Regions from separate parts of the Homo sapiens genome. Here all the other regions are linked to region 3. The links come from fine-mapping of genetic effects on gene expression. A gene starts in region 3. Each other region holds a variant in brackets. All regions are shown on one strand. Distances are between the middles of the regions.

The links. PIP is the estimated chance that this variant, and not a neighbour inherited with it, causes the effect.
Region 1: its variant is fine-mapped to the expression of LINC00662 in whole blood (INTERVAL, PIP above 0.99).
Region 2: its variant is fine-mapped to the expression of LINC00662 in whole blood (INTERVAL, PIP above 0.99).
Region 4: its variant is fine-mapped to the expression of LINC00662 in cerebellar hemisphere (GTEx, PIP above 0.99). The same link has a PIP of 0.9 or more in kidney cortex, nucleus accumbens, stomach, sun-exposed skin and vagina.
Region 5: its variant is fine-mapped to the expression of LINC00662 in visceral fat (GTEx, PIP above 0.99). The same link has a PIP of 0.9 or more in ileum and thyroid.
Region 6: its variant is fine-mapped to the expression of LINC00662 in whole blood (TOPMed, PIP above 0.99).
Region 7: its variant is fine-mapped to the expression of LINC00662 in tibial nerve (GTEx, PIP above 0.99). The same link has a PIP of 0.9 or more in adrenal gland, cerebellum, fibroblasts, gastroesophageal junction, ovary and subcutaneous fat.

What each region holds. Positions count from the first base shown.
Region 1 is chr19:27,658,257-27,662,323 of GRCh38, reverse strand. No RefSeq gene overlaps it. Among named protein-coding and RNA genes, the nearest start is that of LINC02987, 130 kb to the left of the region's middle. The variant TTTTTTTTTTTTG/G (reference allele first, on the strand shown) is at 1,702.
Region 2 is chr19:27,489,994-27,494,060 of GRCh38, reverse strand. No RefSeq gene overlaps it. Among named protein-coding and RNA genes, the nearest start is that of LINC02987, 300 kb to the left of the region's middle. The variant GA/A (reference allele first, on the strand shown) is at 1,663.
Region 3 is chr19:27,792,311-27,796,377 of GRCh38, reverse strand. It overlaps LINC00662 (long intergenic non-protein coding RNA 662), which reads left to right and starts at 2,438. Exons shown (of 3, transcript NR_027301.1): 1 at 2,438-2,846; 2 at 3,146-3,378. LINC02987 (long intergenic non-protein coding RNA 2987) reads right to left here and starts at 2,947. Exons shown (of 7, transcript NR_146733.1): 1 at 2,769-2,947. RefSeq lists enhancers at 278-1,059, 2,226-2,705.
Region 4 is chr19:27,739,202-27,743,268 of GRCh38, reverse strand. No RefSeq gene overlaps it. Among named protein-coding and RNA genes, the nearest start is that of LINC02987, 52 kb to the left of the region's middle. The variant A/G (reference allele first, on the strand shown) is at 2,427.
Region 5 is chr19:27,868,072-27,872,138 of GRCh38, reverse strand. All of the region lies in intron 1 of LINC02987 (long intergenic non-protein coding RNA 2987), which reads right to left. Among named protein-coding and RNA genes, the nearest start is that of LINC00662, 76 kb to the right of the region's middle. The variant A/G (reference allele first, on the strand shown) is at 2,410.
Region 6 is chr19:27,443,270-27,447,336 of GRCh38, reverse strand. No RefSeq gene overlaps it. Among named protein-coding and RNA genes, the nearest start is that of LINC02987, 350 kb to the left of the region's middle. The variant A/C (reference allele first, on the strand shown) is at 2,140.
Region 7 is chr19:27,843,271-27,847,337 of GRCh38, reverse strand. The region is part of intron 1 of LINC02987 (long intergenic non-protein coding RNA 2987); the gene reads right to left. Among named protein-coding and RNA genes, the nearest start is that of LINC00662, 51 kb to the right of the region's middle. The variant G/A (reference allele first, on the strand shown) is at 2,248.

The DNA.
Region 1 (4,067 bases), 130 kb after region 3:
GTAAAATCTACTAAGGGACAGCTGGGAGTAGATTTTAGTGAAATCTACTAAGGGAAATTTTTGAGGCCTTAGAGACCTGTTGTTAAACAGCCCATTGAGCCCTACAGTAAAAAAAGAAATATTTCATGATAAAAGTATAAACAAGCTATCTATGAGAATGCTTTGTGATATATAGATTTATCTAACTTATTTAAACCTATGTTTTGATTGGCCACTTTGGAAACACTCTTTTTGTAGAATCTGCAAAGGGACATTTCTGAGCCCATTGAGACCCATTGTGGAAAACCAAATATCCTGGGATAAAAACTATAAAAAAATCTATCTTTGAAAAAGCTTTTGACATGCAGATTCATCTCAAAGTGTTAAACCTTTGCTTTGATTCAACAGGTTGAAGACAATCTTTTTGTAGACTCAACGAGGAAACATTTCTGAGCCCATTGAGTCCTATAGTGAATAAACAAACATTTCACCATAAAAATTTGAAACAAGATATCTGTGAAAATGCTTTATGATCTGTGAATTTATCTCATGAACAGAACCTGTGTTTTGATTCACGAGTTGGAAACAATCGTTTTGTAGAATCTATGAAGGTACATTTCTGAGCCCAGCAAATCCTATAGTAAAAAGCCAAATATCCCAAGGTAAAAACTAGAAACAAGCTATGTGTGAAAATCCTTAATGATTTGTGGATTCATCTCACTGAAACAACCGGTGTTTTGATTCACCAGGTTGGTAACACTCTTTTTGTAGAATTTGCAAAGGGACAGTTTTGAGCCCACTGAGGCCTATAGTGAAAAACCAGATATCCTGCAATAAAAATTTAAAACAAACTATCTTTGAAAATACTTTGGGATGTGTGGATTTATCTCACAGAGTTCAATCTTTGTTTTGATTCTTCAGCTTGTAAATGCTGTTTTTGCACAATCTATGAGGAGACATTTCTTAGCCTAATGAGGTCTATAGAGAAAAATCGAATATTCTGTGGTAAAATGTAGAAACAAACTATCTGTGAAAATGGTTTGTGATATGTGGATACAGCTCATGGTATTACATCTGTGTTTTGATTCACCAGGTTTCAAACAATCTTTTGTAGAATCTACAATGGGACATTTCCGAGGTTATTGAGGCCTATGGTGAAAGACAAAATATCTAGTGATAAGAAAGAAAAACAGGCTATCTGTGAGGATGTTTTGTGATGTGTGGAGTCATATCTAGAGATAAGAATGAAAAACAGGCTATCTGTCATGATGTTTTGAAGATATGTGGAGTCATCTCACAGACTTCAACTTTTGTTTTGATTCAACAGGTTGGAAACACCCTTTTTTAAGAATCTGTTAATCAACATTTCTTTCCCATTGAGGACTACAGTGAAAAACCGAATATTTCATGATAGTAACTAGAAAAAGTTATCTGTGAAAATGCTAAGTTATGGATTCATATCAAAGAATGTAACCTATTTTTCAATTCACCAGGTTGAAAACACTTTTTTTGTAGAATCTACAAAGGGATATTTGTGAGCCAATTGAGGCCTATAGTGAAAAACAGAATATCAAACAATAAAAACTAGAAACAAGCTATCTGTGAAAATACTCCTGGCTGACTTCAGGCATTCTAATTAAAGAGACTCCTGGCAGACCCTGGGCAGTCTAAGAATAGAAATGCCTTGGCAACTCCAGGCATTCTTTTTTTTTTTTTTTTTTT[TTTTTTTTTTTTG/G]AGATGGAGCCTTGCTCTGTCACCCAGACTGGAGTGCAGTGGTGTGATCTTGGCTCACTGCAAGCTCTGCTTCCTGGGAACCCCAGGCATTCTAACGGGAGAGACTCCCAGCTGATCACAGGCATTTTAATGATAGAGACACCTGGGTGACCCAAGGCATCATTATGGCAGAGACCAGGCATTCTAAATAGAAAGATTTCTAAATAGGCTGACCCCAGGCATTCTAAATAGAAAGATTTCTTGCCGAATGCAGGCACTCTAATGATACAGACACATGGCTGACTCCAGTAATTCTAATATGGAGACTCCTGTCTGACCGCAGGCAGACTAATGATAGAGACACATGGGCAGCTTCAGGCATATTCATAGGAGAGACTCCTAGCCAACCCCAAGTGGCCTAATGACAGAGACACCTGGGAGAACCCAGGCATTCTAATGGAAGGAACTTCTGCTTGACCCTGGGCAGTCTAATGATAGAGACACTGGGAAATTGCAGGCATCATAATAGGAGACTCACAGCTGACACCAGGCGTTCTAATGGGAGAGACTCCTGACCAAGGCCAGGCACTCTAATGATGGAGACACCTCGGTGACCCCAAGCATTCAAACAGATGAGACTCAAGGCAGACCAAAGGCAGTCTAATGATAGATACACCTGGGAAACCCCATGCATTCCAATGGAAGAGACTTTCCACCAACCCCAGTGTGGAAAGTGGAAAGTTCCTCTTCAAAGTTTCCCTTCTTGTTAAATAACAAATGTTAGAAATAATAGTTTCTTTTAAAAACTAACTTCCTTCAAGCCTCCTTGCTTTAATACTAAGAACTCTTTATTAAACCCTATCCTATGTAGCTGTTGGACATGAGGGAATAAGTACATTCTATGTCTTCGTACTTTAACCAAGATATTTGTTCTAGACACGCTCAAGCATGTTCCATCTCACAGCTTATGCCCCTTCCTTATTTGGAAATATTACTTTTCTAAGTTCTTTTGCAAGCAACTTCCTCTTTTCCTTTTGTTCTCCATTACCTTTACCTATTTAGGAAAGTTTAAGTTGTTAGTCAATCGGGTTTAGTTTAGACTGTGAGGTCCAGCTCCCACCAATGGAGATAGGACACAGTAGTAAGGACCCAATGCATAAGGGATACATATTCTTGTCCTTCTTTGTTCATTGTGCTCTCGTGGCAGGATTGCTGATGGACAGCACCCTTTCTGCAGAAAGTAAAATTGCTTTGCTGAGAACATTCTTTGAGCACTAGTTCTTCTTTTCAGCACAAAGGAATGAGCATTTCTAACACCCAGGCATTCTAATGATAGAGACATTTGGGCATACTCAAGCATTCTAATGGGAACAAATCCTGGCCTATCCCAGGCAGTCTAAAAGTAGAGACACCTGGCTGAACCCAAGTGCAACCCCAGACATTCTAATGGGAGAGACCACTGGCTGACTGCAGGCAATCTAATGATACAGTCACATGGGCGACCCCAGAGACTATAATGGGAGAGACCTTAGGCTGACCTCAGGCATTCTAATGATAGAGACAGCTGAGCCAACTCAGACGTTCTAATGATAGAGACACCTTGGCTATCCCAGTCATGGAAGAGACTGCCAGCTGACACTAGGCATTCTAATAGGAGAAACTCCTGGCCGACCTCAGGCAGTCTAATGATAGAGATACATTATTGATTCCAGGCATTTTAATTGGAGAAACTCCTGGCCGAACCTAGGCATTTTAATGGGAAAGACTCCTGGCCTATTCCAGGCAGTTTAAGGATACAGACACCTAGGTGACACCAGGTGTTCTTTTTCTTTTACTTTTTCTTTTTTTCTTTTTCTTTTGAGTTTCGTTCTGTTCCCCAGGCTGGAGGGCAGTGGTGTGATCTTGGCTCACTACAGGCCCTGCTTCCTGGGTTCACTCCATTCTCCTGCCTCAGCCTCCTGAGTAACTGGGACTACAGGTGCTTGCCACCATGCCCAGCTAATGTTTCTGTGTTTTTAGTAGAGACGGAGTTTCACTGTGTTAGCCAGGAGGGTCTCCATCTCCTGAACTCATGATCCACCCCTCTTGGCCTCCCAAAGTTCTGGGATTACAGGTGTGAGCCACCGTGCCCAGCCCACCCCAGGTATTCTAATGGGAAAGAATTCTGGCCAAACCCAGACAGTCCAATTATAGAGACACCTGGGCGAATCCAGGCATTTTAATTGGAGAAACTTGCATCCAACCTCAGGCAATCTAATGATAGAGACACCTGAGTGCCTCCAGGCATTCTAATGTGAAAGTCTATTGGCCAGCCCCAGGCATTCTAATGGAAAAGATTCTTGCCTGACACCATGCAGTCTAATATTAGCAAAACC
Region 2 (4,067 bases), 300 kb after region 3:
AATGCATACATTACAAAGCGTTTTCTGAGAAAGCTTCTTTCTACTATTTATGTGAAGGTATTCCCTTTTTCACCATAGGTCTGAATGCCCTCCCAAATATCCCTTCACAGATAGTACCAAAACGGGGTTTGGAAACTCCTCAATCAAAAGAAAGGTTTAACTCTGTGAGATGAATGCACACATCACAAAGCAGTTTCTCAGAAATTTTCTGTCTAGTATTTCTTGGAAGATATTTCCTTTTTCACCATAGTCCTCAATGTGCACCCGTATATCCCTGCATAGACTCTACAAAAACAGTGTTTCCAGACTGTTCAATCAAAGAAAGGTTTTACTCTGTGGGAAGAATATGCACATCACAAAGCAGTTTCCCAGAAAGCTTCTTTCTAGTTTTTACCTGAAGATATTTCCTTTCTCAACAGATGTCTCAAAGTGATCCCAAATGTGTCTCGCAGATTCTTCCAAAACAGTCTTTCCATCCTGCTGAATCAAAAGACAGTTTTAACACTGTGACATAAATGCACACATCACAAACAGATTCCCAGAAAGCTTCTTTCTAGTTTTTATCTGAAGATATTTCTTTTTTGACCTTAGGCCTCAAAGTGCTTCCAAATATGCCTTCTAGATTCTCCAAAGTCCCTGTTTCCAAACTGCTCAATCAAACGAAACATTTAACTCTTTGAGATGAGTGCACTCGTCACAAACCAGTTTATCAGAAAGCATCTTTCTAGTTTTTATCTGATGATATTTAATTTTTCACCAGAGGCCTATAAGCGATCCTTAATATCCCTTTGCAGATTCTACCAAAACAGTGTTTTCAAACTTCTCAATGAAAAGTATGGTTAAACTCTATGAGATGAATGCACACATCACAAACCATTTTCTCAGAAAGCTGCTTTCTAGTTTCTATCTGAAGATATTTCCTTTTTCACCACTGGCCTCAGTGTGCTCCAATTTATCCCTTTCTATATTTTAAAAAAACAGTGTTTCCAAACTGCTCAATCAAAAGAAAGGTTTAACTCTGTGAGAAGAATGCACCCATCACAAAGCAGATTCCCAGAATGTTTCTTTCTATTTTATATCTGAAGATATATTGTTCTTCACCATAGGCCTCAAAGCACTCCCAAATATCCCTTCTCAGATTTTTAAAAACACCGTTGTCAGACTGAAAAATCAAAAGAAAATTTTAACTCTGTGAGATGAACTTACTCATCACAAAGTAGTGTTTCTCACAAAGCTTCTTTCTAGTTTTTATCTGAAGATATTTATTTTTCACCATAGGCCTGTAAGCGCTCCCAAATATCCCTTCATACATCCTACGAAAACAGTGTTTCCAAACTGCTCAAAGAATGGTTTAACTCTCTGAGATGAATGCACACATCTGAAGGTGGTTACTGAGAAAGCTTCTTTCTAGTTTTCCTCTGAAGATATTTCCTTTTTCACCATAGGCCTCAAACCACTCCCAAATATACCTTCTCAGATTCTACAAAAAGAGTGTTGCCAAACTGCTCAATCAAAAGAAAGTATGAATTCTGTGAGACGAATGCACTCATCACAAAGCAGTTTCTCAGGAAGCTTCTGCCTAGTTTTTCTCAGAAGATATTTCCTTTTTCACCACTGACCTCAATGTGCTCCCATATATCCCTTCCTAGATTTAAAAAAAAA[GA/A]ACAGTGTTTCCAGACTGCTTAATGAAAGGAAATATTTAACTCTGTGAGAAGAATGCACACATCACAAAACTGTTTCTGAGAAAGCTTCTTTCTAATTTAATCTGAAGTTATCTCCTTTTTCACCATAGGCCTCAAAGCTCTACAAAATATCCCTTCGCAGAGTCTACCAAAACAGTGTTTCCAAACTGCTCAATGAAAAGAAAGATTTAACTCTGTGAGAAGAATGCACCCATCACAAAGCTGTTTTTGAGAAAGCATCTTTCTAGTTTTTATCTGAAGATATTTCCTTTTTCACCATAGGACTCAATACACTCCCAAATGTCCCTTCACAGATTCCATAAAAATAGATTTCCCACACTGCTTCATATTTATCTGAAGATATTACCTTTTTCACCATAGACCCCAATGCACTTCCAAGTGTCCTTTTACAGATGCAACAAAAACAGTGTTGCCAAACTGCACAATCAAAAGAAAGGTTTATCTCTGTGGGATGAATGAACACATCACAAAGCAGTTTCCCAGAAAGCTTCTTTCTAGTTTTTATCTGAAGATACTTCCTTTTACACCATAGGCCCTGAAGCACTCCCAAACATCCCTTCTCAGATTCTACAATCACACTGTTGCCAAACTGCTCAGTCAAAAGAGAGGTTTCACTCTGTGAGATGAATGCACACATCACAAAGCAGTTTCTCAGAAAGCTTCTTTCTAGTTTTTCTCTGAAGATATTTTCTTTTTCACCATAGGCCTCAATACACTCCCATATATCCCTTCATAGATTCTACCAAAACAATCTTTCCAGGCTGCTTGATCAATGGAAATGTTTAACTGTGTGAGAAGAATGTACACTTCACAGAGCAGTTTCTCAGAAACCTTCTTTCTAGTTTTTATCTGAAGATATTTCTTTTTTTACTGTAGACCACAAAGCACTACAATATATCCCTTTGTAGATTCTACAAAAACAGTGTTTCCAGACTGCTCAATCAAAATAAAGGTTAACTCTGTGAGAAGAACGCCCTGAACACAAAGCGGTTTCTGAGAAACTTCCTTCTAGTTTTTTTCTGAATATATTTCCTTTTTCACCATAGGCCTCAACTCGCTCTGAAATATCTCTTTGCAGATCCTACCTAAAGAGTGTTTCCAAACTGCTCAATCAAAAGAAAGGTTTAACTCTGAGAGATGAAGGTAGAAATCATAAAGCAGTTTCCCAGAAATCTTCTTTCTAGTTTTTATCTGAAGATGTTCCCTTTTTAACCGTAGGCCTCAAAGTGCTCCCAAACACCCCTTCTCAGATTCTACAAAAACGTTGATGCCAAACTGCTAAATCAAAAGAAAAGTTTAACTCTGTCAGGAGAATGCCCACATCACAAAGCCAATTCTGAGAAAACTTCTTTCTAGTATTTATCTGAAGATATTTCCTTTTTGACCATAGACCTCAATGTGCTCCCAATTGTCCCTTCACAGATTCAATAAAAACAGTGTTGCCAAACTGCAAAATGAAAAGAAAGATTTAACTCTGTGAGATGAATGCACAAATCACAAAGCAGTTTCCTAGAGAGTTTCTTTTTAGTTTTTATATGAAGATATTTCCTTTTTCAGCATAGGCCTCAATGTGCTCCCAAGTATCTCTTCTCAGATCCTACCAAAACAGTGTTTCCAAACTACTCATCCAAAAGAAAGATTTAACTGTGTGAGATGAATGCCCTCGTCAGAAAGCAGTTTCTCAGAATGTTTCTTTCTAGTTTTTATCTGAAGATATTTCCTTTTTCACCATAGGCCTGAATGCCCTCCCAAATATCACTTCACAGATTCTACAAAAACAGTGTTTCCAAACTGCTCAATCAAAAGAAAGGTTTAACTCTGTGAGAAGAATGCAGACATCACGAAGCAGTTTCTGAGAAAGCTTCTTTCTACTTTTTATCCCAAGATATTTCCTTTTTAACCATAGATCTTGATGCGCTCCCAAATATCCCTTCACAGATACATCAAAAACTGTGTTTCCAAACTGCCCATTCAAAAGGAAGTTTTAATTCTGTGAGATGAATGGACACATCACAAAGCAGTTTCTCAGAAAACTTCTTTCTAGTTTTTATGTGAAGATATTTCCTTTTTCACCCTTGGCCTCAATTGGCTCCCAAATATCCCTTCACAGATTCTAAAAAAAACAGTTTCCAAACTACTCAACCAAAAGAATGGTTTAACTCTATGAGAAGAATGTCACATCACAAAATGGTTTCTCAGAAAGCTTCTGTCTAGTTTTTATCTGAAGATATTTCCTTTTTCACCATATGCTTTTATGTGCTCCCAAATATCCCTTCGTAGATTCTACAAAAACAATGTTTACAAACTACACAATCAAAAGAAAGTTTTAACGTTGTGAGACGAATGCCCACATCTCAAAGCAGT
Region 3 (4,067 bases):
ATTATATAGTGTTGGATTCTGAGATTTTAGTGCACTTGTCACCTGAGTAGTATATATTGTACTCAACAGGTAGTTTTTTCATCCTTCATCCACCTGCCACCCTCATGTCTGAGTCTCCAAAGTCCATTATGTCACCCCGCATGCCTTTGCATACGCATGGCTTAGCTCCAACTTATAAGTGAGAACATATGGCATTTGATTTTTAATTCCTGAGTTATTTCACTTGGAATAATGGCCTCCAGCTTCATTCAAGTTGCTGCAAAAGACATTATTTCATTCCTGAGGTGCTGACCTCAGGTTTACTGGACACGTCTCAGAGACAGGGCAGGGGATGAGGGCAAGACCCCTCTAAGGCACTCCCCCACACCCTATCACTCCTGCTCTTAAAGGACCCCTGAAGGGCACTGAAGGGGTTGGACTTCTCAGTGCAAGCCAACACCCACACCTCCGAGTACCAACAGCCCCAGAGAACAGCAGGGGTCCTCAATCCTGAGCACCCCTCCAAGGAGGTCAGGAGAACAAGCCTTAAGCCAGAGAGTGAAGAGGATCAGTGTCTCGGACCCAGAGAGGATTCAGGGAAAGGGCACAGGAGGGACCCCAGTCCAGAGCCAGACAGAGTTCAGCTGAATGTGGGAACTCATGCCATGGAGTGGATAGCCCTGGATGACTGAAGAGCCCAGTGCCCAGGGGCGTCTCACCCACTGTGGAGACAGGCCCTTATATTAGGTGGCAATGGGGCCACCTGAGTTCTGGACCATGGCTCAAGCCCAGGCCAAGCAGCCCTGGAGTAAGGGCATGAGGCAGGGGGCCCCAAGCCAAGTTGAACACTGGGGTACCGTCCCTGGAGCAGCCTGGGGTACCCTGACAGCACCCATGCCCCAGTCTGCACACACCCCTTGTTCTGAAATTAACAGCCTGCAGGGGTGTCCTCAGTATCAGAACTAGTGGGCCACACAAAGCCCTGGAGGACTCTACAAACCCAGGTCCATGGGGAGCAGCCCTGTAAGGGCCAGATGGCTGGGTGGAAAAGCTGACCAAGTCTTCCTTCCTTTCAGCCAAATCTGGAAGAAAGGCACCTTGCCTAGAGCAGTGTTCCTGGTACCCAGGCCTCTGTGGGCATCCTTCAGCACAAAGACCCTCTCCAAGGGGGGATGGGCTGGCCCTCCCAGGACCACCAACCCACTTCCAGAAGCCCATGGGTCATCCCCACCTTCACCTGACTGGGCTGTCCCTGACGCTAAGGCCCAGCAGCACGAAGGGGATTCCACACAAATCAGGGCAGTAGGCTGCTCTCTGGCGGCACTGGGGGCTTAGGGTCTGGCCAGCCTGTCCCTGGCTCAGGACACATGCCTGGAAATTAGGGTTTTCTCCTCTGCTCTTAGCATCTCCTGGGTAAACCAATAATTACTCTCCCTCATGTCTCAAAATTCACATCTATCTAAAAGGCGCTAGTGAGGGTGACATTTCCAGGAAGCCATAGCCCATGTCACCCCCTGCAAAGCTGTGACCTTTTCCGCGGGCAGGCCAGGCGGCGGAGTTCTCCCAAAAGCGGATGAACTGGCACTCTGGCTGGAGAAAGCAGAGAGCAGCAGCACAATGGACAGCGTCTGGGACCTCAGGCCGATTCCACAGCAGCTTAGGAAAGCAGGAGGCCCCCTGGGCGGGAGGAGGCTTGATGCTCTGGAGGGAAACGGAACTGAGCAGCGGGAGGTGGGGTGAGCCTGAGACCCGACCGATTTTGGCAAAGGCGAGGCGCACTTTGCAGTATCATACTCTCCTCACTGCCCAGCCCAGACCTGCCCTTCAAGTCCCTCTATGGACTCACTCCCCTTAGCCAGGGGTGGCACAGATTCAGTAGCCAGCATGGGTTTGGAAACAGAGGTCAACACCGCCCTGCCCCTCCCTGCGGGGCTGCGCAACACCCTTGAACCCTGCGCATGCTGAGACTGTAGTCCCATAGCCCTGCGACCAACGGCCGGAAGCAGCTAAGACACTATTACCAGCATGCCCGGCAGGAGGGCACCGCGCTGCCCCCCCCCCTCAAGGGACCAGCATCATCCCCACTCCCGTAGCATACTGGGATTGTAGTCCCGCAGCTCTGCCACCAACAGCCAGAAGCAGTTAAAAAACTGTTCCTCTCAGCATGCCCTGCAAGGCGCGCACCGCTGCTGTACCTCCCTTAACGTATCCGTAACCTCCCTCAACGTATCCGTACCTCCCTCAACGTATCCATACCTCCCTCAAGGTATCCGTACCTTCCTCAAGCTATCCGCACCACCCTCTCTTCCATTTCATGCGAAGATTGTAGTCCCGCAGCCCTGCGACCAGCGGCCGGAAGCAGCTAAGATGCTACTGCTCCCAGCATGCCCCGCGAGGCGCGCACAGCACAGGCCCTCTCTCAAGGTCACCACCTCCACTCCCGTTGTATGCTGGGATTGTAGTCCGGCCGCCCTGTGACTAACGGCTGGAACCGCCTAAGACACCACCCCAGCCAGCATGGCCGGCAGGAGCGCACCGCGCTGTCTCCCTCCAGGGATCCGCACCGCCCTACAATCCTGCTTTGTGCTGAGATTGTAGTCCTGCAGGCGTACAACTAACAAGCTGGGTGCAGATAAGAGACTACAGCTCCCCGCATCCCAAGCAAAGGTCCCTCCTCTACGGAGCCCCTCCACGCGTCCACTGCGGTTCCGCCGTGCCAAGGGGAGCTTGGCTGTTCACGGGCCTCACCTGCTAGCGAGAAGATAGCTTGGCCGGGCGGCTGATCTCACCTTGTAATTCTGACACTGTGTCTCCCGGGCTTGTCGGCTTCATGACTTGTGCCCAAAGTTTGATTTCTCGCAGACCAGGTAAAAGCCAAGAGGCTCTCATAGGCGCCTTGGCAGAGTTGCCATTGGAACGGGCGTCCTCTAGTAGCTGGGATCTCCCCGCCCCTTCCTCCTGAGGGGCCACTCCTTTCTGCCCCACCCTTCTTATTGCCCCACCCTTTGCCACACTCCTTCAGAGATGCGCAGTGCTGCCCCTTTCTATGGGCAGGGCCGAAGGTCCGCGTGTAAAAGTACCCAGTCCCTGGTAACCTGACACTTCCCTTTTAAAAGCCACCTTTTGTCTATCTCTGGCCTGCCACGATTCTTCCTGTGCTCCATAGGAGGACCCATTGGACCCCCGGGCTGGCTGCAGGGCCCACACCTGGGTTAGACCTCGCACAGGGACGCTGCTGCCACTGTAATAAAGCGTGCCTACACGCTTCTGAAACTGGTGTAGGAACAACCTCAGTTCTGTGAAAGGCGGACGCAGCAGGACAGAATCTCCGTGGACATCTGTCTGGAGGAGCAATTTTACTGCGACATTTTAAAGAAACAAATTTAATTGATTTCCAAGGTAAGAAATTAAACCTTGAAAACTAAACTGAAAAGTCATCTGTGTTTGACAAGTCAGACTTTCTCCAAGAAGAAAACTAAGGAGTGCATATTTTCCATTATTATAAATAGTGAAAATGAGAAATCATAGCAACTCCCTGGAAAATCTTGCTCTGCCAGTTTTCTAAATCACAGTAGGGCCTCGATATGGTTTTATTTGTTTTTGTTTTTGTTTTGGAGTGTGTTCACCTTTTGAATATAAGAATTTGCGGTTTTGACCAAGTTTTTAAATTTTCAGCTATTGTTTATTTGTTTTTGTATTATATTTAATTTTTCTGTCTCTCCCTCTCTGTCTCAGACTCAATCATTTCACAGGTCTCTTAGGCCTCTTTTCATTTTCTTTAAACTTGTTTCAGTCTTCAGATTGGATGGTTTATATTGCTGTCTTCTGTTTCTACTCTGTAAACTAAAAGTTCTTTTTATTTTATTATTTTATTGTCTTCTATTTTACTCTTTTTATAATTTCCATGTCTCTGCTGAGACTCTACATGAGTTAATTCATTATGAGAATATTTTCCTTTACCCCCATGAACGTACTTATAATAGCTGCCCTGAAATACTTGTCTGCTGATTACATCATCTCGGACATCTTAGAAATAGCTTCTGCTGCCTGCTTTTTATCTTGTGTATAGTTTGCATGTTACATTTCTT
Region 4 (4,067 bases), 53 kb after region 3:
AGGAGAGACTCGAGGCCAAACCTTGGCATTCAAATGATAGAGACAAGTGGGTGGCTCCAATCATTTTCAGGATAAAGACACCTGAGTGACCATAGGAATTCTAATGTGAGAGGCTCCTGGCCAACCTCTGGCATTCTAATGGAGAGACAACTGGCTAAGCATAGGCAGTCTAATGATAGAGATACCTGGGTGATCCCAGGCATTCTAATGGGAGAGACCCCTGGCCGACCCCAGTCAGTCTAATTAAATAGACACCTGGGTGACCCCAGGCATTAAAATAAGAGAGACTCCTACCCAATCTCAGACATTCTAATGGGGGAGACTTCTGGCAGTTTATTGATAGAGACACCTGGGCGACCTCAGGCATTCTAATAAGAGAGATTCCTGGCCGACCCCAGACGGTCTATGCATAGGGACACCTGGGCGATTCCAGGCATTATAATGGGAGAGTCTTACGGTTGACCCCAGGCAGTCTATGGATAGAGACAACTGGGCGATTGCAGGCATTCTAATGCAAGAGACTCTCTGCCAACCCGAGGCATTCTAATGATAGAGAAACCTGGGAGACCCCAGGCATTGTAATTATTTAGGCACCAGTGAGACCCCAGGCATTCTAATGGGAGAGAATTTTGGTTGACATCAGACATTCTAATGAGAGACTCCTGTCTGATGCCAGGCAGTCTAACAATAGAGACACGTGGGCAACCCAGGTATTCTAATGGGAGAGACTTCCAGTCATCCCTAGACAGTCTAATGATAGAGAAACTGGGAGACCCAGACATTTTAATGGGAGAGACTCCTGGCCAACCCAAGCAGTCTATGGATAGAGACTTGGGTGACAACAGGCATTCTAATGAGAGAGATTTCTGGCCCACCCCAGGCATTCTAATGATAGAGACAAGTGGGCAACCCCAAGCATTTCAATGATAGAGACACCTGGGCAACCACAGGTATTCTAATGTTACAGACTCAGGGCTAACCTCAGACATTCTAATGGAGAGATTCCTGGCTAAGCACAGGCAGTCTAATGATAGACATACCTGGACTACCACAGGCATTTTAATAGGAGAGACTCCTGGCCGACTAAACGCAGTCTAATTAAAGTGACAAATGGGCAACTCCTGGCATTCTAATGGGAGAGACTCCTGGCCAACTGCATGCAGTTTTATTAAAAAGACACCTGGGCGACCCCAGGCATTCAAATAAGAGAGAATCCTAGCTGACCCAAGGCATTCTAATGGGAGACACTCCTGGCTGACCCAAGCAGTCTGTTGATAGAGACACCTGGGTGACTGGAGGCATTCTAATGGGAGAGATTCCTGGCTGACCTCACACAGTCTAATTATAGAGAAACTTGGGTGACCCCAGGCATTCTAATGGGAGAGACTAATGGCCGCAGTGGCTGGCATGAAATTAACCAACCCTGGGTTTAGTATAGCTTAAACTTTCATTTATTGCTAGGCTGACCCCAGGCAGTCTAATGATAGAGACAAATAGGCAACCGCAGGCATTTCAGTGAAAGAGACTCCTGGATGACCACAGACAGTCTAATGATAGAGGCATCTGGGTGACCCTAGGCATTGTAATGAGAAAGACGCCTGGACGACCTCAGGCAGTATAATTAAAGACCCCTGGGTGCCACCAGGCATTCTAATAGGAGAGTCTTTCGGCTGACCGAAAGCATTCTATTGGGAGTGACTCCTGTTTGACTCCAAGCAGTCTATGCATACAGACCACCTAAGCGACCCCAGGCATTCTAATGAAATACATACCTGGCCGAACCCAGACAGTCTAATTATAGAGACACTTTGGCGACCCCAGGCATTCTAATGAAAGAGACTTTCATCTGACATCTGAAAGTCTAAGGATAGAGACTCCTGGGCGACCCCAGGCATTCTAATGGGAGAGAGCCCTGGTCGAACCCAGGAAGCTCAATTATACAGACTCCTGGGCGACCACAAGCATTCTAATAGGAGAGACTCTCAGCCCACCCCAGGCAGTCTAAAAATAGAGGTACTTGGGCCACCCAAGTCATTCTAATGGAGGAGACTCCCCAACGACCCCAGGCAATCTAATGTTAGAGACACTAATGAAAGATACTCCCAGACAACACCAGTCAGTGTGATGAAAGAGACACTTGGGTGACCCCAGGTGTTCTTATGGGAAAGACTCTCAGACCACCGCAGGCATTCTAGTGATAGGGATACCTGTGCAACCCCAGGCAGTCTAATGATAGAGACACCTGGGAAACCCCAGGCAGTCTAAATAAGAGACACCTAAGCGACCCCACGCTTTCTAATAAAAGAGACTCCCAGGCGACCCAAGGCATTTTAATCAGACTCCTGGCCAAACCCTGACAATCTAATGATGGGGACAAGTGGGCCACCCCAATCATTTTAATGATAGAGACACCTGAGTGACCCCAG[A/G]CATTCTAATGTGAGAGACTCCTGGCAAGCTCCAGCGATTCTAATGGGAGAAACTCTTGTCTGGCTTCAGGCAGTCTAAGGATAGGGAAATTTGGGTGACTGTAGGCATTCTAATATGAGACTCCCAGCCGAACCCAGGCAGTCTAATAATAGAGACACTTGGGGGACCTCAGGAATTTTAATGGGAGAAACTTTTGGCTGACCACATGCAGTCTAATGATAGAAAACCCTGGGTGGCCCCAGGCATTCTAATGTGAGAGACTTTTGGCCAACCACAGGCAGTCTAATTGAAGTGAAAGGTGGGTGGCCCCAGGCATGCTAATGGGAGAGACTCCTGGCTGAACCCAGGGAGTCCATTGATAGGGACCTCTGGGTGACCACACACACTCTAATAATAACGACTCTTGGACGACCCCAGGCAGTCTAATTAAAATGACCACTGGGTGACCTGAGGCATTCTAGTAGGAGAGACTTAGCCGGCCCAAGGCATTCTAATGGAAGTGACTCGTGGCCTACACCAGGCAATCTATGCATAGAGACACCTAAGGGACCCCAGGCATTCTAATGGGATAGATTCCTGGCCAGCCCTAGGAAATCTAATAATAGAGACACCTGGGCGATTGCAGGCATTCTAATGCGGGAGACTCTTGGCAGACATGAGGCTTTCTAATGATAGGGACACATGGGCAACCCAGGCATTGCAATGATAGAGACACCTGTGAGAACCCAGGCACTCTAATGGGAGAAACTTTCCGTTGACACCAGGCATTCGATTGAGAGAGACTCCTGTCTGACACCAGGCAGTCTAATGAGAGAGAAACCTGGGAGAGACTCTTGGCTGACCCAAGCAGTCTATGGGTAGAGACACATGGGTGACCCCAAGCACTCTAATGGGGAAGATTTCTAGCTGACTCCAGGCAGTCTAATGATAGAAACACCTGGGCAACCCCAGGCATTCTAATAAGAGATACTCCTGTGTGACCCCAGGCAGTATTATGATAGAGACACCTGGTGACCGAAGGCATTCTAATAAGAGAGACTACCGATCGTCCCGAGGTATTGTAATTATAGAGACACCTGGGTGACCCCAGGCATTGTAATGATAGAGACATCTGTGTGACCCCAGGTATTCAAATGGGAGAGACTCTTGACTGACACCAGGCATTCTAATGAGAGAGACTCCAGGAAGATCCAGGCAGTCTAATGATAAATATACCTGGGCGAACCCAGCCATTCTAATTGGAGAGACTTCTGGCTACCTCAGTCATTCTAAGGTGAGAGACTATTATTCGACTTCAGGCAGTCTAGGGATAGACTCCTGGTCCAATCCAGGCATTCTAATGTGAGATACTCCTGGCAGTACCTAGGCAGTCTAATGATAGAGACACTTGGTCTACCCCAGGCATTTTAATGGGAGAGACTCCTTCCTGACCCCAGTCAGTCTAATTATACAGACTCCTGGGACACCCCAGGCATTCTAATGAAAGAGACTCCCAACCAACCCCAGGCAGTGTGATGATAAAGACACTTGGGCTACTCTAGGCATTCTAATGAGAGAGACTCCCAAAAGACTTTAGGCATTCTAATAATAGAGACACCTCTGTGACCCCAGGCAGTCTAATGATAGAGAGAACTGGGCAA
Region 5 (4,067 bases), 76 kb before region 3:
ATGTGGTCAGGGAAGTTATTTTAAAAAATCTGGGACAAAGTAATTTAAAATTCTAGTACAATATTACAACCAGAATATTAAAATTAATAAAATCAAGATACAGAAAATTTTATCACCACAATTTGGGCATTTTCATTATGTGTTTAAAATTTCAAATGTCTTTTTCCCCCTTTCAAATAGATTTTATTTTTTAGGACCATTTAAGTTTACAGCAAAATTGAACGGAAAGTACAGATATGTCCCACATCCTCCCTTCCCTCACAGATGCACAGCTTTTCCCTCCAGCATGGCAGTCTTGTTACAATTAATGAATCAATATTTACATTTTACTATTACCCAAAGTCCATAATTTGCATTAGAATTTACTCTTCATGTTGTACATTCTAATGACAAATGTATAACGACATGTATCCACTATTATATTATTATACAGAATATAATGCAGTATGATACTATAATACAGTATATGTATAGTACACATTACAATATTTGTACTGTCTTAAAAATTGTTTGTGCTTCACCTATTCATCCCTCCCTCCTCTCAACCCCTGGAAATCACTGATTGTTTCACTGTTTCTATAGTTTTGTCTTCTCCAGAATATCATATAGTTGAAATCATACAGTATGTAGCATTTTCAGATTGGCTTCTTTCATTTAGCAACAGGTATTTGTTTCTTCCATGTTTTTTCATGTCTTGATAGTTCTTTTTTTAAATAACTGAATAAGATTTAATTGTCTAGATATAATGTTCATTCATCATTCAAGTTTTGGTAATTATGCTTCTATAAATATCTGTGCATAGGTTTTTGGGTGGGCATAAGGTTTTTAACACATTTGGGTAAGTACTAAGGGGCACAACTGCTGAATTTTATAAGACTATGTGTGGTTTTGTAAGAAACTGTCAAACTGTCTTCAAAAGTGGTTGCACCATTTTGTGTCACCAGCAATGAAAGAGAGTTCTTGTTGCTCCACGTGCTTACCAGCATTTGGTGTTGTCAGTGTTCTGAATCTGGACCATTGTAATTTGTGTATAATCATATCTTATTGATATTTTATTTTGAAATCTTCTAATATCATATTATATGGGGCATCTTTTCTTGTACTTATTTGGCATCTACATATATTTTTGATAAAGTATCTGTTCAGGTCTTTTGCCTGTGTTTTTTAATTAAGCTTTTTTACCTATTGTTGAGTTTTAATTTTTTAAATATATTAGATAGAAGTACTGTATCAGATATATCTTTTGCAAATAGTTTCTCCCAGTCTATAGCTTGTGTTATCCTTCTACTGACAGTACCTTTGGCAGAACAGAAGATTTAAATTATAATGAAGGCCAGCTTATCAATTGTTTCTTTCATGGGTCATGCCTATGGTGTTGTATCTAACAAGCCATCACCATGCCCAAGGTAGTGTAGATCTCTTTTCCTATGCTATTTCCCAGAAGTTTTACAGTTTTGCATTTTACATTTAGTCTTATGATCCATTTTGAGTTAATTTTAAGCAGTGTAAAGCCTGTTTGTAGATTCTTTTCATATGTATATCCTGTTGTTTGAGTGCTATTTACTGAAAAGACCATCTTTTCCTCATTGTATTACCTTTGCTCCTTGATTATATTTATGTGGGTCTATACCTGTGCTCTATAACCTGTTGCATTAATCTCTTTTTATCTTCTTTTATGAATACCATACTCTTTTGGTTACTGTAGTTTTATAGTAAGTCTTGAACATGGGTAGTGTCAGTCCTCTGGCTTTTCATTTTTTCTAATGTTGGTTATCCTGGGTCTTTTGCCTTTTCATGTAAACTTTAGCATCAGTTTGTTGATTTCCATGAAATAATTTGTTGGGATTTTTATTTTAATTGTGTTAAGTCTATATGTCAAATTAGAAATAACCAATGTCTTGACAATATTGAATCTTTCTATCCATAAACATGTAGTATCTATCAATTTCTTCAATTATTTGATTTTTTAAATCATAGTTTTATGGCTCTCCTTATATAAATCTTGTACATACTTTGTTAGATTTTTAGCCAAGTATTTTATTTTGGGGGATGCTAATATAAATGTTATGGTGTTTTAATTTCAAATTTCAGGTATCTATTGCTGATATATAGGAAAGTGATTACATTTTGTATATTAACCTTGTATCCAGCAAATGTTGAATGGTAAAGATCTTTGTTTGGTTACACAGCTAATGTGCAGTGCTGGCAGGATTTGAATCCAGGTTAGTCTAATATTCAGGTTCTCTAAACTATGATCTGTTTTCTTTCCTGAAATTTTCTTCACCCATTTATTCCCATTTGGGACCCTTGCTCAACATGCTGTGTGCAATGAAGGCTTACCTATGCCCTCACTGATACTAAAGATCTTTCCCAGCTGCCTTTCACCACACCCAAAAGAAAGTTAAGGGC[A/G]ATTATTACTTATTTGTATTTTTTTGCTCTAAGTCTTAATTCATTTAAGGAGGAATCTAGTTAACCTATCCCTGTAATCTCAGAGCTTAGCACAAGCATTGACCCAAAGATAGCAGTGAGCAGATACTTCTTTAAATAAATTACTATATGTTGATATCTGCCCCACGTAAGCGGGGAGGGAAAGATCTGGAAGAAATTAGGTGTTCAGAATTAACATTCTATGCTTAGGCAGCCTGGGAGGTCTGCATGTTCATTGAGGCATCAGGGATTTTGTGGTTTCCTTCAAGGAAACCCCAAGCATGTAGAATTTTTTCTCTCCTCACATTATGCTTTGAGAAACTTGAGATGGATCTTGTCAGCATAATTCAAGAGTAATTTAAGTAGTAAACCAAAATCAAAAGCAGAGGCACACTTTCATTGATATACATGAGTGTCAAAGTATTTCTCATGCAAAAAGTATCCTAATTCATCTAATAACTAAAAAGATGGCTAAGCAGAGACAATGGTAAGAAAAAAAAGTGAAAATTAAATGCTCTTAGATTTACTAACTTGTTTCCTTTTTCATTTAAAGTAATATCAATTAAAAAGCAAACTAATTTTCTCTACTTCTTCCACAAAATCAAATAAAATTAAATTTAGATTATAACATATAAATAGAATATAACCCAAAATAAAGGTCAAGAACACCATTATTGGCTGGGCACAGTGGCTCATGCCTGTAATCCCAGCACTTTGGGAGGCCAAGGTGGGCAGGTCACCTGAGGTCAGGAGTTCAAGACCAGCCTAACCAACATGGAGAAACCCCGTCTCTACTAAAAAACACAAAATTAGCTGGGTATAGTGGTGCATACCTGTAATCCCAGCTACTCAGGGGGCTGAGGTAGGAGAATCACTTGAACCCAGGAGGCAGAGGTTGCAGTGAGCATATATCGCACCATTGGACTCCAGCCTGGGCAAGAAGAGCAAAACTCCGTCTCAAAAAACAAACAAACAACAACAAAAAAACACAATTATTTGCTTTGAAAAGTTTGTTTTCATTCTGATTACCAAACAAGAATGCATTCAAAGCCTTAGGGACAGCAAAACAGGCTTTATGGAGATTGTTAGAATTTCCAATTAGAAAGAATGTTTTCTCAAGCATCAATTATGAAGCCATGAAAGTCTCAACCTCCCTAACTAAAATAAGATCTCAAATCCATGAACAGTCCATTAGAGCAGCAATTCATGTTCCTCTTGAGAAAGCCAGACAGTAGTTCCTGCTAGGGGAGACAGAAGAGGTAATGGGCAAATTGGCAGAGTACTGTGCTCACTGTTCTAACATCAGAGCTCTCTTCACAAACCTCTGATGGGTCTAATGCTGGGACAGTTCACAGTAGGACACTACAACAAAGCCTGCCTTTAACATGAAAATTATTCCTAAAATGTCTCTGTTGATAGCTGGCAATGCACAAAATAAGGAGTTGGCTATTTGCAAGGAAGCAAGAATTAGCATAATCAGCAGCTGCAGCCTTACCCACAGACATAGAACCATAAAGAACCTCATGCCTTCTAAAACCAAGTTAGGCAAGAGGCCTGAATAGAATAATACTCACCACCTGCCAATGTCCCCCAAACCACAGCAAGGAAGAGCCATTTGCTACTGGTCTAAGCATACTCTA
Region 6 (4,067 bases), 350 kb after region 3:
CTATAAAAAGAAGAAGTTTCTCAGAAAGTTTCTGTCTGGTTTTCATGTGAAGATATTTCCTTTTTCACCCTAGGCCTCAAAGTACTCACAAATATCCCTTTGCAGATTCCACGAAAAAAAACTGTTTCCAAACTAGTCAATAAAAAGAAAAGTTCAACTCTGTGAGATGAATGCACACATCGCAAAGCAGTTTTTCAGAAAGCTTTTGTCGAGGTTTCATGTGAAGATATATACTTTTTCAAAACAGACCTCAAAGGGCAGACAAATATCCCTATGCAGATTCTCCAAAAAGACTGCTTCCAAACTTTTCCCTCAAGGGAATTGTTCACCTCTGTGAGATGAATGCACAAATCACAAAAAAGTTTTACAGAAAACTTCTTTCTAGCTTTTATATGAAGATATTTCCTTTTTCACCACAGCCCTCCAAGCACTCAGAAGTATCCCTTTGCAGATTCGACAATAAGACTATTTTCAAACTACTCAGAAAGGTTCAACTCTGTGAGATGAGTGCACATATCACAAAGAAGTTTCTCAGAAAGTTTCTGTCTAGTTTTTATGTGAAGATATTTCCTTTTTAACCATACGACTCAAAGCACTCAAAAATATGCCTTTTCAGATTCTATAAGAACATAATATCCAATCTGCTCAATGTAAAGAAAGGTTAACCTCTGTGAGATGAATGCACAGATTTCAAAGCAGTTTCTCAGTATACTTCTCTCTAGTTTTTATGTGAAGATATTTCCTTTTTCACTATAGACCTCAAAGTGTTCGCAAATATCCCTTTGAAGATTCTACAAAAAGACTGTTTCCAAACTGCTCAGTCAAAGGAAAGGCTCAACTCTGTGAGATGTATGCACATTTCACAAAGAAGTTTCTCAGAAAGCTTCTGTCTACTTTTTATGTGAAGATATTTCCTTTTTCACCACAGGCCTCAAAGCGCTCAGAAATATCCCTTTCCAGATACTGCAAGAACAGAGTTTACAATCTCCACAATGAAAAGAAAGGTTTACGTCTGTGAGATGAATGTGCACATCACAAAGAAGTTTCTCAGAAAGCTTCTGTCTAGTATTTATGTGAAGATATTTCCTTTCCATCCATAGGCCTCAAGCCACTCACAAATATCCCTTTGCATTTTCTACAAAAAGATTTTTTCCAAACTGCTCAATCAAAAGAAAGTTTGAACTGTGTGAGATGAAAGCACATATCACAAAGAAGTTTCTCAAAAAGCTTTTGTCTACTTTTTATGTGAAGATATTTACTTTTTCACCATAGGCTTCAAAGCACTCACAAGTATCTCATTGCAGATTCTACAAGAAGAGAGTTTCCCATCTGATCAATGAAAAGAAACATTTACCTCTGTCAGATGAATGCACACATCACAAATCAGATTCTCAGAAGCCTTCTGCCTAGTTTTTATGTGAATGTATATCCTTTTTCACCATAGGCCACCAAGGGCTCACAAATATCGGATTGCAGATTCTACAAAAAGACTGTTTACAAACTACTCAAGGTTCTATTTAGTGAGATGAATGCACACATCTCAAGGAAGTATCTCAGAAAGCTTCTGTCTGGTTTTTATATGAAGATATTTCCTTTTTCACCATAGGTCTCAACAAGCTCACAAATATCGCTTTGTAGATTCTACACAAAGACTGTTTTCAAACTGCTCAATCCATAGAAAGTTTCAACTCTGTGAGATGAATGCGCACGTCACAAAGAAGTTTCTCAGAAAGCTCCTTTCTAGTTTTTATGTGAAGATATTTTATTTTTCACCATAGGCATCAAACCACACACAAATATCCCTTTGCAGATTCTACAAAAATAATGTTTCCAAACTGCTCAACCAAAAGAAAGTTTCCACTCTGTCAGATGAATGCACACATCACAAAGCAGTTTCTCAGAAAGATTCTGTCTAGTTTTCCTATGAAGTTATTTCCCTTTTCAGCAATGGCCTCAAAGGGCTCACAAATATCCCTTTGCAGATCCAACAAAAAGGCTGTTTCCAAACTGCTTAATTGAAAGAAAAGTTCACCTCTGTGGGATAAATGCCACATCACAAAGAAGTTTCTCAGAAATCTTCTGTCTGGTTTTTATGTGAAGATTTTTCCTTTTTCACCATAGGACTCAAACCACTCACAA[A/C]TATCCCTTTACAGCTTCTGCAAAAAGACTGTTTCCAAACTGATTAATCAAAAGAAAGTTTCAACTCTGTGAGATGAATGCAGGCATCACAATGAAGTTTCTCAGAAATCTTCTGTCTAGTTTTTATGGGAATATATTTCCCTTTTCACCACAGGCCTCAAAGTGGTCACAAATATCCCTTTGTGGATACTACAAGAAGAGAGTTTCCAATCTGCTCAGTGAAAAGAAATGTTTACCTCTGTGAGACGAATGCTCACATCAGGAAGCAGTCTCTCAGAATCCTTCTTTCTGGTTTTTATGTGAAGATAGGTCTTTTTCACCATAGGTCTCAAGCGCTCACAAATATCCCCTTGCAGATTCTACAAAAAGACTGTTTCCAAACTGCTCAACGGAAAGAAAGGTTCAACTCTGTGGGATAAATGCACACAGCTCAAAGGAGTTTTTCAGGAATCTTCTGTCTAGTTTTTATGTGAAGATATTTTCTATTTCACCATAGGCCTCAAAGCGCTCACAACTATTCCTTTGCAGATTCTACAAGGACTGTTATGACTGTTTCCAATCTGCTCAATCAAAAGAAAGGTTCAACTCTGTGAGCTGAATGCACACATCACAAGGAAGTTTCTCAGAAAGATTCTTTGTAGTTTTTATGTGAAGATATTTACTTTTTCACCATAGGCCTCCAAGTGCTCAAAAATATCCCTTTGCAGATTCTGTAAGAAAAGAGTTTCCAATCTACTCAATGATAAGAGACATTTACCTGTGTGAGGTGGATGCACGCATCAAAAAGCAGTCTCTTAGAAACCTCCTGCCTAGTTTTTATGTGAAGATATATCCTTTTTCAAAACAGGCCTCAGAACGGTCACAAATATCCCTTTGTGGATACTACAAGAAGAGAGTTGAAAAGAAATGTTTACCTCTGTGAGATGAATGCCCACATCACGAAGCAGTCTCTTAGACATCTTCTGTCTAGTTTTCAAGTGAAGATATTTCCTTTTTCACCATAGGCCTCAAAGAGCTCACAAATATCCCTTTGCAGATTCTACAAAATAACTGTTTCCACAGTGCTCAATCAATAGGAAGTTTCAACACTTTGAGATTAATGCATACATCACAAAGAAGTTTTTGTGAAAGCTTCTGTCTGGTTTTTATGTGATGATATTTCCTTTTTCGCCACAGGCCTGAAAGCAGTCCCAAATCTAACTTTGCGGATTCTACAAGAAGAGGGTTTCCAATCTGCTCAATGAAAAGTAATGTCTACCTCTGTGACATGAATGCCCACATCAAGAAGCAGTCTCTCAGAAACCTTCTGCCTAGTTCTTATGTTTAGATATTTCCTTTTTCACCATCGGCCTCAAAGGGCTCACAAATATCCATTTGCAGATGCTACAAAAACACTTTTTCGAAATTGCTCAATCAAAAGAAAAATTCAACTATGTGAGATGAATTCACACATCACAAAGAAGGTTCTCAGAAAGCTTCTGCCTAGTTTTCATTTGAAGATATTTCCTCTTTCATAATAGGCTTCAAAGTGCTCACAAATATACCTTTGCAGATTCTATAAAAAGAGTGTTTCCAAACTGCTCAATCAAAAGAAAGCTTTAACTATTTGAGATGAATGTACACATCACAAAGTAGTTTCTCAGAAAGCTTCTGTCTAGTTTTCATGTGAAGATATTTCCTTTTTCACCATAGGCCTTAGAGCACTCGCAAATATCTCTTTGCAGAATCCAGAAGAAGAGAGTTTCCAATCTGCTCAATGAAAAGAAACGTTTACCTCTGTGAGATGAATGCCTATGTCATGAAGCAGTTTCTGAGAAATATTTTGTCTAATTTTTATGTGAAGATATTTCCTTTTTTGCCATAGACGTCAAAGGGCTCAAAAATATCCCTTTGCAGATTCTACAAAAAGACACTTTCTGAACTATTCA
Region 7 (4,067 bases), 51 kb before region 3:
ATCTATTCCTATACATTAGTTAGTGTAGCTCCAGCTGGGGGCAGTGGCGGGCACCTGTAGTTCCAGCTACTGGAGGGGCCCAGTCAGGAGAATCACTTGAGCCCAGGATGCAGAAGTTGCAGCAAGCCGAGATTGCCCCATTGTGTGTGTGGCAGGCCAGGTCTCACTAACTAAGGCGGGCCTCTGCAACAACCGTTTCAGTACTGACCAAGTGGCTAAGTTAAATATTAAAAGCTGAGAGAACCAGTGCACTCTTGCAAAGGGTGGAATGTCGCAAAAGTCCACCAAGAGTTTTCACTAGGACTTTCCTGGGCCTGCCTTGGAGCATGACAAGATGATGAGGGAATTCTTAACAGGACCATTTAAGATTAAATAAGTTTAATTGGGGGTCTGAAAAAACTCCCTGTTAGGGTCACCCCGACCAGACCCTTCCCCTCCCACAGGCCTCACAATACACTCCCTTGTGCTCTCCACACAGCTACCCCAGGGCAAAAGACAAACCCCTGCCTTCACTGAGCCCTCCAGTATCTGTTTGTCCAGACAGTTATAGGATGCGGTTAACATATCTCTTAACCTCGCATAACAAAGCTGGCAAAAAACATCTCCAGGATGCAGTTGAGACACCTGCATCCCCAACTCAGCTCCTCTACTGGGACCCAGTTCTCCTGCCCCGACTCAGCTCCCCGACCCTGACCTGGTTCTGGCCCTGTAAAACCCTGCTATAGTCTGTAAGTGGGGCTGCCTCCTCTAACTGTGATGGAGCAGCCAAGCAGCTCAATAAAGCTTGCTTGTCTGACTTTGGGTCTCCTCATCCTTTCTCTCAGCTGACCTTACATTTCTGGTGCTGAAACTCAGGAAGGTGGTAGAGTTTGGCCTCCCTTTCTCCCTTTCTCCTTCCCTCCATTCTTCCCCCGGCCGAACTACCCCTTCCAGAACCTGCTAGAGACCCAAGGATCTCATACAGCCTTTCCATCGCTTGGTGAACACATCCGACACCAGGACCACCTCAGGGGTGAGTAAAGGAGACTTTTGCCTTCGGTCTGGAACCCTTGTCTACTCTTTCCTTCCTGAAAGACCTAGCACTGGGCCAAGGGTTTCCTCCTCCCGGCCTCTAGGCCCTTGGTATCTCCCTTTCGGGGATGCCTGAACGGAGGATTATCGCACTTCTCCGACTTGAACCGTGGGACAAGGGATGCCTTCTCCCACCATTCTAGCCAAGTCTCCTGTCTCTACCCCTCCCTTTCTCATTTCACTAAGGGAGCCTCCCAATCCACTCCCTCAAAGACATCCCCCCCCCGCCCCTTGGGTATCTCCTCTGTAACATTAATGCCCTTATCCTCCATTCCAAAATTTGGCCAAAAAAACCTCATCTTTTATTGTAACACTCCCTGGCCAAAATATAAACTAGACAATGGCTCCCAATGGCCTGAAAATGGCACTTTCAATTTCAACATTCTCAGGGACCTAGACAACTTCTGCCATCGCAATGGAAAGTGGTCAGAGATCCCTTATGTTCAGGCTTTTTTTTGCCCTCTGTAGCCGTCCCTCCCTCTGTCAGTCCTGCTCTACTTTCCAAATCCTCCTCGCCTGCTCCAAACCCGACCCATCCTCAAACACCCCCCTCCACCACTCCTAGTGACAATTCCTCCTTCTTTGACCCTGCCAACTTTCCTTCTCTCTGACAACACCATAATCCTCCCCCAAATCATCACAATCCTCCACCATATGCTCCCGCTCCTGCCTTACCTCTTTCCCCTCCTCTCTCCTAACCACCCAACTTCTGATTCTGATTGCTCCCCATCTCCACTTCATACCTGCTCTCGGACTCAGCATGCCCAACAGTCGGCCCCCTTACTTCCCCTCCGAGAGGTGGCTGAGGCTAAAGGATTCGTTCACATCCACATTCCCTTCTCCCTCTCCAACCTTTCCCAAATTAAGAACGGTCTCAGGTCCTTTTCCTCCAATCCTGACACTTACATCAAAAAGTTCAAATACCTCACTCAATCTTATAAACCCACTTGGCATGATCTCTATATTATCCTTTCTTCTACTTTCCTCCCAGAAAAACAAAGAAAAGAGTGCAGCTTGCAGCTCAGGCACATGCTGACGATCTTCATTGGCAAGACCCTCCTAAGCCCATAAAGGCTGCTGCATTTCCCCGGGAAAAATCCTCCTGGGAGTACCAACCCACAGAGCCCGGCTGGCATCTCATAACCACATGATCACTTCCTTATTGCAGGCCTTAAC[G/A]AAGCTGCCCACAAGGCCGTAAACTTTAAAAAACTCAAAAAAAAAAATCTCCCAAAGGGCCAATGAAAATCTTGCCAAATTTCTTTCCCGCTTTACAGAGGCCCTCCAAAAATACACCAGTGTTGACCCCACCTCCCAGGAAGGAACTATTGTTCTTAATACCCATTTCATCTCTCAGTCTGCTCCTGACATACAGCGCAAGCTCAAAAAGGTAGAAGATGGCCATCAAAACCCTCTACAAGACCTTCTTATCCTGGCCTTCAAGGTTTTCAACAACAGAGATGGGCAAAATAAATTAAATAAAGCCCAACAAGATCAGGCTAAATACCAGCTCCTAGCAGCAGCTATCTACCCAGGCTGCCCAGAGGCTCAAAAGACCCAATAGCAGTGACCCTCCTGGGCCCTGTTTTAAGTGTGGCAAAGAAGGCCATTAGGCCTGAACATGCCCTAACCCACGAATACCAAAAACTCCTTGCCCAGCCTGCCAACAAACCAGTCAATGGAAGTCTGATTGTCCTCTTAACAAGTAGACTAACAGGCCGGTTCCTCAAAGCCCTGGCAAATCAAAGAGTGAAGAGTCACTCACACTCCCACACCTCCTTGGCCTGGCTGCTGGAGACTGACAGAGCCCAGGGCCCCCGGCCCCATCTGCCGTCACTGCATTGGAGCCCAGGGTAACTCTGCTAATAGCAGGTAAACCGATCTCTTTTTTAATCAACAGTGGAGCCACCTAATCGGCTTTACTTGTATTTTTAGGACCCATTTACCCTTCCCAGGTCTCTGTTGTGGGGGTTGATGTACTCTTCTCATGTCCATGCACTACTGAATCCCTTACTTGTTCCCTATTTAATACTGTTTTTTCACACTCCTTCCTTATCATGCCTCATTGCCCCACCCCCATCCTAGGCCGAGACATTTTAGCCAAATTCAAGGCTTCTATCAACTTTTTCTGTCCCCCTCAACCAGAGTCTCTCCTGCTCCTCTCTGCTAGTCCAGCCTCTGATCCCTCCTCCCCAGCACCCGCTAGCCGCCTCCCTCATTAATCCAGTAGTGTGGACACCACCACCCCTTCCATAGCTGCTCACTAGGACCCCATCAAAATCCAGTTAAAACAACCCTCTAAATTTCCCAATGTTCCCCAATTCCCCATTTCCCTAACATACCAAAAGGGCTTACAACCCATCATAAACAAGCTCTGCTCATGCAGTCTTCTTAGACCAACACACTCTCCGTATAACACCCCCATCCTCCCTATTAAAACATCTGATGGCTCATACCACTCATCCAGGACCACCGAGCTATCAATCAGGCTGTCCTCCCTATTCATCCTGTAGTCCCTAACTTCTATACACTTTTCTCTCTTGTCCCCTCCAACACCACCCACTATACAACAATTGACCTGAAAGATGCCTTCTTCACCATTCCCCTACACCCTGATTCCCAAAACCTCTTTGCTTTCACCCAGACTGACCCCAACACTCTCCAGTCACAACAACTCACATGGACTGTCCTCCCTCAAGTCTTCAGGGATAGCCCTCATTTCTTTGGGCAAGCCCTAGCCCAAGACTTCACCTCCTTAAATCTTTCCTCCAGCTGCCTTCTTCAATATGTAGATGACCTCCTCCTCTGTAGCCCCTCCTTAAAAATCTCCCAAACTCATGCTGCCACCCTTCTCAATTTCCTTACTAATAAAGGCCATAGGGTCTCCCCCTCCAAAGCACTGCTTTCCACCCCTATGGTGACCTGCTTAGGACTTCAACTCTCCCCCAGGTCCCAAGCCATGACCCTGGCATCAGCAGCCTTAATAGTCAGCCTATCTC